Linked DNA regions of Homo sapiens. The protein of the gene in region 1 purifies or fractionates together with the protein of each later gene. This does not show direct contact. Each region holds a gene or a part of one and is shown in the gene's direction. Other genes may lie near its edges.

The links.
Region 2: the proteins of ZNF668 (region 1) and CCDC137 purify together in Homo sapiens (affinity purification with mass spectrometry; one large-scale study listed by BioGRID and IntAct). This does not show direct contact.
Region 3: the proteins of ZNF668 (region 1) and RPF1 purify together in Homo sapiens (affinity purification with mass spectrometry; one large-scale study listed by BioGRID and IntAct). This does not show direct contact.

Annotation. Positions count from the first base shown.
Region 1 is NC_000016.10:31,064,155-31,067,809, reverse strand, and holds part of ZNF668 (zinc finger protein 668), read left to right. Parts: intron 1-2,780; exon of another isoform or gene 2,781-3,010; intron 3,011-3,124; exon of another isoform or gene 3,125-3,191; coding exon of another isoform or gene 3,192-3,238; intron 3,239-3,328; coding exon of another isoform or gene 3,329-3,350; coding exon 3,351-3,655. UniProt on the Homo sapiens protein: May be involved in transcriptional regulation. May play a role in DNA repair process.
Region 2 is NC_000017.11:81,671,985-81,674,471, forward strand, and holds the end of CCDC137 (coiled-coil domain-containing protein 137), read left to right. Parts: intron 1-91; coding exon 92-171; intron 172-510; coding exon 511-720; 3' UTR 721-1,915; downstream 1,916-2,487.
Region 3 is NC_000001.11:84,485,643-84,489,297, forward strand, and holds part of RPF1 (ribosome production factor 1), read left to right. Parts: intron 1-3,655.

The DNA of each region.
Region 1 (3,655 bases):
TAAACACCTGGACTGAAGTCCCAGCTGCTTAGGTTACCCATTGTGGGACCATGGGCAAGTCACTTAACTCTTGGAACCTCGATTTATTCCTCTGTAAAGTAGGGACAAGAATCCCTATCTCAGAAAGGTATAAGACATTAAATTAAATAAACCAGCACACCCAGCAATGTGTCTGGCTCTAAGAAGACGCTTTGATAATTGAGGACAGTAATTATTTTTGACTCATTCATTCCTCACCCAACTCTGTCAGGTAAGTACTGTCATTATCTCCATTTTTCAGATTAGAAAACTGAGGTTCTAAGACATGCAGTACATTACACACGGTCACATCAGCTGGGAAGTGATGGAGGCAAAATCTGAAGCCAGACAGTTTGGCTTCAGGGACTGGGCACTTAACAAAATACTGAACCATTTCTCTGGACCTTGGTTCCCTTATCTGTGAAAATGGAATAATAGAACTTTCCTCATGGGGTTGCCATGAAGGGTAACTGAGCTAATACACATAAGGAGTTTAGGATACTGCCTGGTATTTGGCGAGTGCTCAGTAAATGTGAACTATCTTTTTTATCATTTATTTATTTATTTATTTTTGAGATGGGGTCTCACTCTGTTGCCAGGCTGGAGTGCAGTGGCACCATCTTGGCTTACTGCAACCTCAGTCTCCTTAGGCTCAAGCATTTCTCCTACCTCAGCCTTCTGGAGTAGCTGGGAGTACAGGCATGCTCCACCATGCCTGGCTAATTTTTGTATTTTTTGTAGAAATGGGATTTTGCTATATCGCCCAGGCTGGTCTTGAACTCCTGGGCTCAAGGGATCCACCCGCCTTGTCTTGAACTCCTGGGCTCAAGCGATCCACCCGCCTTGGTCTCCCAAAGTGCTAGTGTGAGCCACTGAACCTGGCCCAAGCTATCATTTTTATTAAGGAGGAACATTATCAGGCAGACTCTCCAGAAACCGTCTGGAAGAGGTAGTGAGTACCTCATCCAGAAATAGGGAGGGATCCCTTGGAAACTGTAGGAAGAATTCAAGTCATCAGAAAGGTTAGAATTCAGTCCCTTTAACTTATCTTCAAGCCCCAGGATTGATTATTGATTGATTGATTGATTGAGACAGTGTCTTGCCCTGTCTCCCAGGCTGGAGTGCAGTGGTACAGCCTTGAACTCCTGGGCTCAAGCAGTCCTCCCACCCCAGCCTCTCAAGTAGGCAGTACTACAGGCACATGCCACCACATCTGCTAATTTTTATTTTTAGTAGAGATGGGGTCTCACCAGGTTGCCCAGGCTGGAGCGCAGTGGTACGATCATAGTTCCCTGCAGCCTCGAACCCCTGGGTTCACAGGATCCTCCCGCCTCAGCCTCCCACGTAGCTGGGACTTAAGGCGCATGCCACCACACCTGGCTAAGCCCTAGGATTTAGTGGGAAAAGTGAAATAACCAAGTGAGAATAAGATGGAGTTTTGTGGGATTGGGGCCAAACCCAAAGGGGAGATGCTTGAGGATCCTCCTGGTGGAAGTGGGGCTCCAGTGAAGGACTTGTCAGATTTGGAACAAGCAGGAAGGACCTGGGGATTTGCATGGTGTGGTGGAAGCCATGGAAAGTTCTTGAGCAGGGAACAGGAAACATCATTCATTACTTTTGGGAGAAGACCGGCTGCATGGGGTTGGGGAGGGAGGGCAGCGTGCAGGCCTGAGGCCGGGATTTCAGGCAGAAGGGTGCTGACTTTAAGGATGTGGCCCTTGCCACGCGTCAGGGGCTCCTGTGTCCTCCCTGGGTCAACCAGGTAAGCTGCTTCTCCCGCCCTTTCCTGGCATAAGGGGCCCTGAGTCTCTGTATTTCCCCTAGCACCCTCGTGGCTCAGCTCAGTTTCCTCCTCCTGAACCCCAGTGTCATAACTTAGAAGCCACCAACCCCTAACGTGTCCAGATGAGGAAATAGTCTTTTTATTTTTTTTTTTTTGAGACGGAGTCTTGCTCTGTCGCCCAGGCTGGAGTGCGGTGGCACGATCTTGGCTCACTGCAAGCTCCGCCTCCCAGGTTCACACCATTCTCCTGCCTCAGCCTCCCGAGTAGCTGGGACTACAGGCGCCCGCCACCACGCCCGGCTAATTTTTTTGTATTTTCAGTAGAGACGGGGTTTCACTGTGTTAGCCAGGATGGTCTCGGTCTCCTGACCTCGTGATCCGCCCCCCTCGGCCTCCCAAAGTGCTGGGATTACAGGCGTGAGCCACCACGCCCAGCCGGGCGGAAATAGTCTTATAAACAACACTCATTTCACTGAGGTCTCATAGTAATCCACAGGGCTGCAAGTAGAACGTAGGCCCCCTAGCCTCTGGGCACACCTGGCTCCCTGCAGCCCCCACTCCTCAGACCCCTTCCCCCAGCAGCAGCTGCTGAGCACTCCTTAAGTGGATCTGCCATAATCCTCTTCCCTTCATCCCCCAGGGAGGATGAGCTGGTGTTAAGACTAATACAGCCATTAATCCTGTTTCCTCCCAACCATGATCCCCAGGAGCAGCTGGGTGGAGGGCGTCTGGGTTCTGGACCAGAAAGTAGGGATCTCAGCTAGAGCTGGTATCCCAGGAGGCCATGTTAGATCAGATACATCAGTTATGACTCAGAAAGAGGCTTCCAGCTGCTAGCAATGGCTCAGGCTGCCTTGAGTGATTCTCCATTACCAGAGTTGTGGGAACAGGCCAACAAGATTCCAGAGCAGAGAGTGGACAGATTCCAGTCTGGGGCGGAGGCCCGTACAGCTGTGCAAGGCCAGAATTCTGTGTGAACAGTTGCTGTCTCTGAGGACTAACCATCCAGAGGAGGAAAGAAAACACAAATGCTGGGGACCTGTCACTTCCAGACAGTGCCAGCTACCAGATTTAGCCCATTGGCTCAGCCCTTTTCTGGTCCCAGGTCTGTCTTTTCTGGGCGCTTGGAGACCTTCAGGCCAGGCCCACGTCTGGGTACACTCTTTATCCTGGCATAGTTCTTGGACACTGAGCTGAAGAAGGAAGATGGTGAGACAGATGGAACCTGGGCCTCTGGGAATGCCACAGTGTTTGGAAAAGCCCGTTGGGGGCGGGGGGGGACGTGTAGGTGAATCTTTTGTGACCCTCAGCCTCCTTTCTTAGTGGCTCTGCGGACACTTGGTCCAACTCCTTTCTTCAATGAGCAGATCAGGGAGGAAACGAACGCAGGATGTCAGAGCCAGGAATGCTGGGCAGGAAGGATGTGTGGGTTCCGAGGTGAGAAATGCAGATGAGATAGGGTTCTCTCTGAGGCTTTCAGGAGTGGCGAAGGTATGTGGCTTTGGTCTAACTTTGCTTCTCTTGCAGAGAAACCCCGTTCACCAAGGCCATGGAAGTGGAGGCTGCAGAGGCCCGGTCCCCAGCCCCCGGCTACAAGCGCTCGGGCCGCCGCTACAAGTGCCTGTCCTGTACCAAGACATTTCCAAACGCGCCCAGGGCAGCGCGCCACGCTGCCACACATGGGCCGGCAGACTGCTCTGAAGAGGTGGCCGAGGTGAAGCCAAAGCCAGAGACAGAAGCTAAGGCAGAGGAAGCCAGTGGGGAGAAGGTGTCAGGCTCCGCGGCCAAGCCTAGGCCCTATGCGTGTCCGCTATGCCCCAAGGCCTACAAGACGGCACCCGAGCTGCGCAGCCA
Region 2 (2,487 bases), on another chromosome or scaffold:
CTATGGGAGGGAGGTGGGCGGGTGGTGGCTCTGGGTGTCAGGGGTGCAGTGGCTGTGGGCAGCAGTCCTCAGTTGTATTCTGCTCCTCCAGACACGGTGAAGTTTGGTGAGGTTGTCCTGCAGCCCCCAGAGCTGACTGCCAGGCCCCAGAGGAGCGTAAGCAAGGACCAGGTAAGTGGGGCACGGGGACAACTTGAGTTTGTCCCCCAGTGCTGCCAGGGAACAGAAGCCTTGGACAGGCTGGACACGGTGGGTCACACCTGTAATCCCAGCACATTGGGAGGCCAAGGCAGGCGGATTGCTTGAGCCCAGGAGTTGATACCAGCCTGGACAACATAGCGAGATCCTGTGTCAAGAAAAAAAAAAACCCTCAGCCAACGTGTGCGCTGTCTGGTGTGTGGCCTGAGAGTGCAGTGTTCTCGCTGGCGGGAGAGCTGTTGAAGCTGTGAGGCTTTCTGTTGCATCCCCTCCTTTCCCAGCCTGTGCCTCACCCTCCCCTCTCTCCCTCAGCCTGGCAGGAGATCGCAGATGCTGCGGATGCTTCTGAGCCCCGGTGGTGTGTCCCAGCCTCTGACCGCCTCCCTGGCCCGCCAGCGGATTGTGGAGGAGGAGAGAGAGCGGGCCGTGCAGGCCTACAGAGCGTTGAAGCAGCGGCAGCAGCAGCTGCACGGGGAGCGACCCCACCTCACTTCCCGGAAGAAGCCAGAGCCGCAGCTGTGATGGAGAGACACCCGGGGCCTGGCCACGCTCTGGGGCAACTGGCACCAGGAGCTGCTACACCTGGGTAGGAGAGAGGCAGGCCATGCCAGCAGTGTGGGGTGAGGCCTCCAGCTACTTGTTCACACGTTGGGCACTAGTGGGTCCACATCTTGCAGGGGGTGAGTGCCCGATGGACTAGGGCCAAGGCCTGGTTGACAGACGGCCCGTGGGGCCCGGTGTCACTCACAGCTCCATCTCTTTGTTTTGAACGTCCATTCTGAGTCTCAGCCCAGGTGGACCTTAGGAAGGGCTGGATCCCTGTCCCTGAACACCAAATACCGAGACAGCTGATGAGGCTGGCTCAGTGTGTGACGGAGGCCCCCGGGAGTCAGCAGAGCCGAGCGTACAGTGCACATCAGGCAGAGCAGGCCACGGGCAGGGACGACGCATCGGGACAGGGCTCTGCAGGGGACCGTGACTACAGGCCAGCTGTGAGTGGTCCCCTACAGAGGCTGCCCACCCAAGGTTTGGTTGGGGTGAAACATGATGACAACACATACACTTAAGAAGGTGGGAACCGGGGGCCGGGCGCGGTGGCTCACACCTGTAATGCCAGCACTTTGGGCAGCTGAGGCGAGTGGATCACCTGAGGTCAGGAGTTCGAACCAGCCTGGCCAACATGGTGAAACTGCATCTCTACTAAAAATACACGAAGAAAAAAAAAACAGTGGGAACAGAGTTGTCACCTACCTAACAGGGCTCTGAGAGAGCCGGGAGGCCCAAAGTGGCTGGAAGAAGGTAAAGGAAAAATCCTGTCTTGGGCTCAAGGTCACAGAGTGGGGCCCAGGGGGAGTTCCTGCTGAGGGCAGGGCCTTGCCAGGCTTCAGTCTCCAGTGCCAAAGGAGGAAATGCCCAGGCTGTCAGCATTTCCAGATGAGAGCAGAAGGGAGAAGCTTAAACCCAAGTCACACATCCAGCAATGGAGTCCGACAGCCCAGCACCATCTGGGAACTGAGAAGCACCTCTGCCCGGCCCCCACACCGTGTGGAAAGTGAGGAGCACCTCTGCCTGGCCGCCACCCCGTCTGGCAAGTGAGGAGCGCCTCTGCCCGGCCGCTGTGCAACCTTCCAAGTGTGAAGTGACAGCCTTGTGTGTGATGTTTTCTGCCTTCCCCAAGTTTGCACTTTCGACATTAAAGTTTACTTTTTAGTTAAAAGTTTTAAATTGGAGAATATATATTTAAAGTCAGGGCTGTTTTCCTCTTATGGGCATGTTTCCCACCTTGTGATGGACCTGGCGGCCCCAGCCCTCGCGTTGGGATGTTGTTTTTGCAGCAGCCAGAACTCAGCCCCAGATCACAAGCAGCAGCTGGAAGGGGGTGGCCTTTCCCTGGGAAAGGGCTGGGACGGCAGCGGGTGGCACTCCCACTCGCTCAATGCCTTTGGTTTTGGGTGTCAGATCGGCCCGTGTATGGCTAAGCAAAGGGATCCCACAGGGCTGGGAAAGCGCTCATGCTCTCCACTGCATCCATGATTCTCAGGTTTTAGCTGCTGGAAGGGAAACCCCTGGTGGTTTTTAGGGCCTCTTTGTTGCCCAGGCTGGGGTGCAGTGGCATAAGCACACTGCAGCAAGTTGTTGGGCTCAGGCAATCCTCCCACCTCAGCCTCCCAAGTACTTGGGACAACAGGTGCTCACCAACACACCCAAATAATTTTTTGTGCTTTTTGTATAGATGGGGTTTCGCCACGTTGCGCAGGCTGGTGTCGAACTTATGGACTCAAGGGATCC
Region 3 (3,655 bases), on another chromosome or scaffold:
TAATTTTCTCATACTGGTTATGTTTACCTTGATCACTTGGTTAAGGTGGTGCCTGCCAGGTTTCTCCACTCTGAATTTACTGTTTTTCCCTTTGTATGATAATTAGTAAGTATTTGGGGAGGAGATAACTTGAATGTTACTCCTCAACTTAACACTCATTGTAAATCATTTTTTCCAGTTTGATAAGTGAGAAATTGTATATCACTGTAGTTTTAATTTGCAGTTCTCATTTTGAATGAGGTTGAACATCTTTTCATATTTTTTTCCCCTTGATTGATTGATTGTGTCTCTTGCCCATTTGTCTACTGGGTAGTGATTTTATATAGGAAAGTCAGGGTAGGCTTTATTGAGAAATTGACCTTTTAGCAAAGACTTGAAGGATGTGAGGAAATTAGCCATCTTTGGGCAAAAAGAGCCCCAGAATGAGAGAACACCCAGTGCACAAGCTCCAAGGCAGGAGTGTATCGAATATGCTTTTTAAGAATAACAAGGAGGCCATTGTGACTGAAATCAAGCAAGGGAGAGAATTGTAGAAGAGGTCCTAGGAAAGTATGATGAAGAAGAAAGACCAGATCAGTGACTTTGTTGGCCGGTATGAGGACTTTGGTTTTATACTTAGTGAAATGAAGAGCCACTGGGTGGGTTAGAATAGAAGAATGACGTGGCCGGGCACAGTAGCTCACGCCTGTAATCCCAGCACTTTGGGAGGCCGAGACGGGTGGATCACGAAGTTAGGAGATTGAGACCATCCTGGCTAACGTGGTGAAACCCCATCTCTACTAAAAATACAAAAAAATTAGCCAGGTGTGGTGGCGGGCACCTGTAGTCCCAGCTACTCGGGAGGCTGAAGCAGGAGAATGGCGTGAACCCGGGAGGCGGAGCTTGCAGTGAGCCGAGATCGCGCCACTGCACTCCAGCATGGGCGACAGAGCGAGACTCCGTCTCAAAAAAAAAAAAAAAAAAAAAAGAATAGGAAAATGATGTGATCAGACTTAATTTTTAGAAGTAGTTGGCTGCTTTACTGAGAATGTAGCTGGAGAGGTAAGTAGAGAAAGGAAGCTACTAAACAAATCCAGGAAAGAAATGATGGGCTTTCATCATGACCTGGGCCAGGGTAGTTACAATGAAAGTGGTGAGAATTGATCTGATTCTAAATATTTTTTCCCCTGGGTATATTTTGAAATCAGAGCTGCTTCAATTTCCTGACAAATTGGATGCAGAATATGAGATAAATAGAGGATTCAGAGATGGTATTAAGGTTTTAGACTGAGCAAATTAGAAGGATGAAATGGTCATTGACTAGATGTGGAAGACTGAGTGAAGGAGATTTAAGGGGAAATCAAGAGTTCAGTTTTGCATATATTATGTTTGAGATGACTCAAGAGTTTTTAGAAGAGATGTCAAGCAGGTAGTTGGGATGTGAGCTTGGAATTCAGGAAAGAGGTCTTGAGATAAATTTGGGGGTAACAGGCATATCAAGGGTGTGTGTACATAAAGGTTTCCCTAGAATGTTTACCTACAGTAGGATAATTTTGAGTCATGGAATGTGTAAATGTTTAACTTTACATAATTGTACCAAAATATTTTTCAAAGTAGTGGTTGTATCATTTTATACTTTTGTGGTACAAGAGTAGTGTTCCTGCTCATCCACATTCTAACCAACTCATGGTATGTTCAGACTAATGATAAAAGGCTGTCTCATTGTGGTTTGAATTTGTATTTCCTTGTTTTCTAATGTTGAGCATCATTTAATATAAGTTGTTTTCTTTAGAGATAAGCCAGTTCATGTCTTTTGCCCAGTTTTCTATCATGTAGTATATTTTACGCATTTGTGGAACTTCTCTATATAATTTGGATACCAATTCTTCATACATATTAAAGAAATCTTCCAATTCATGAATTCTCTTTTTATTTTCTATGGTGTCTTTTGAGGACCAGGACCAGAAGTTCTTGATGTAGTTGAGTTTTTGAAAAATTAGCACTTAAAGCTTTTTATGTAATATTTAAGAAACTTTTCTCTTTCCTGTGATCATAAGTTCTTCTTTCCTTCTAAAATAATTAAAGAGTTGCCTCTCGTATTTATTTGCTTGATTGTCAGGAATTGTTTTCTGTTTGGTGTGAGAATGGAAACCAGTTACTTTCCTTCCTGTCTCCCCAACCTGTCCTTTTGCATATATATATTTTGAATTAGTTTTAATGTACTCTTACAATTCTGTGTTCTACTTCTTAACAGTTCATTTATATATAACCAGTTTATCCAGTACTGGTTATATATAACCAGTAGTTATATTTTTGGAGTAGTGCAGCCTTTCCCCACAATGAATTGTAATGCCATGATATATATCAAATATCTATATATGCTTGGTCTTTTTCTGGGCTATTTGCTTCGTCAGTTTGTCACTGCATCATTAGTTAATTATTTAGCTTCATAATAAGGCTTCATATCTATAAGGGCAAAATGCTTCTTTCACTCCTGCCCCTAAATCCCCTCTCTTCAGATGTGTTTTGGCTTTTCCTAGGCCTTTGCTCCTCCATATAAATTATAAATGGCACTAAATCAGATCAATTTGGGGATACGTATGTATGTATATAATATATATTTACTTAGGTCTCCTTTAAATAGTGAAATGTATTTCATGTATTTCGTAATTCTCTTCATGGAAGTTGACACATAAATCTTGCTAGAGCTATTCCTGGATATCTTACAGTTTTTGTTGGTGTAAACTGCATGTCTTTGAAAATTGTTTTGTTAGCCAATTTATAAAAATGCAATGGATTTTTGAATAGTGATGTTCTAACCAGTAGCCTACCTAAATTCATTTCTAATTTGTTGGGATATCGTTTTCATTTTTCTGTTTAGATAACCATTTCTGCAAATGACAGTTTTCTTATTTTGACCCATTTTTCTCCCATTTTTGTGCCTTCTAGAACTTCTAGCCTAATGTCAAATAAATAGAAAAATCAACAGTGCCATCTTTGCCACGTTCCTGATTTTCAAAAGAATACTTCCAATGAGTCAACATTAATATTTGTGTCACTAGAGATAGATTATTATGAGTTAAGGGTTAAGTAAATTTTACTTATTCTTATGATTTTGTTTTGTTTTGTTTGTCATGAATGAATGTAGAATGTTATTAGATGTTTTCTTTGCAAATATTGAGGTGATTATGTGGCTTTTCTCTTACTGCATTAAACATCATAACCAAATTGGATTTATTAATTCTTTGCTTAGAATTAATTATATCTGTGTTCATGAGTGAGACTACAGTAATGTCCACTTTTCGTTCCTAATATTATTTTATTTTGGCTTTTTCTCTTTTTTAAATCAGTTTTTACCAAGATATCTATTCTCTTAGTCTTTTCTGAGTACTTTCTTCTTTGATCCTGTTGAATCTTTGTTTTCTAATTCATTTATATCTCCTTTTATCTTTATTATTTTCTTCTGCTTCCTTTGAGTTTATTCTGTATTTATTGATTTGCTCAATATATATTTTTTCTAATATGAGCAGGTATAGCCATAAAACTCTTTCAGACTACCACTTTTGGTATATTCCACAAATTTTAAAAGGTACTACTTTCATTAATGTTTAAATCTGAGTGTCTCTCAATGGAAGATTTGTCTTCTCGTAATTTCATTAGTTTTTTTTGGTTCTTT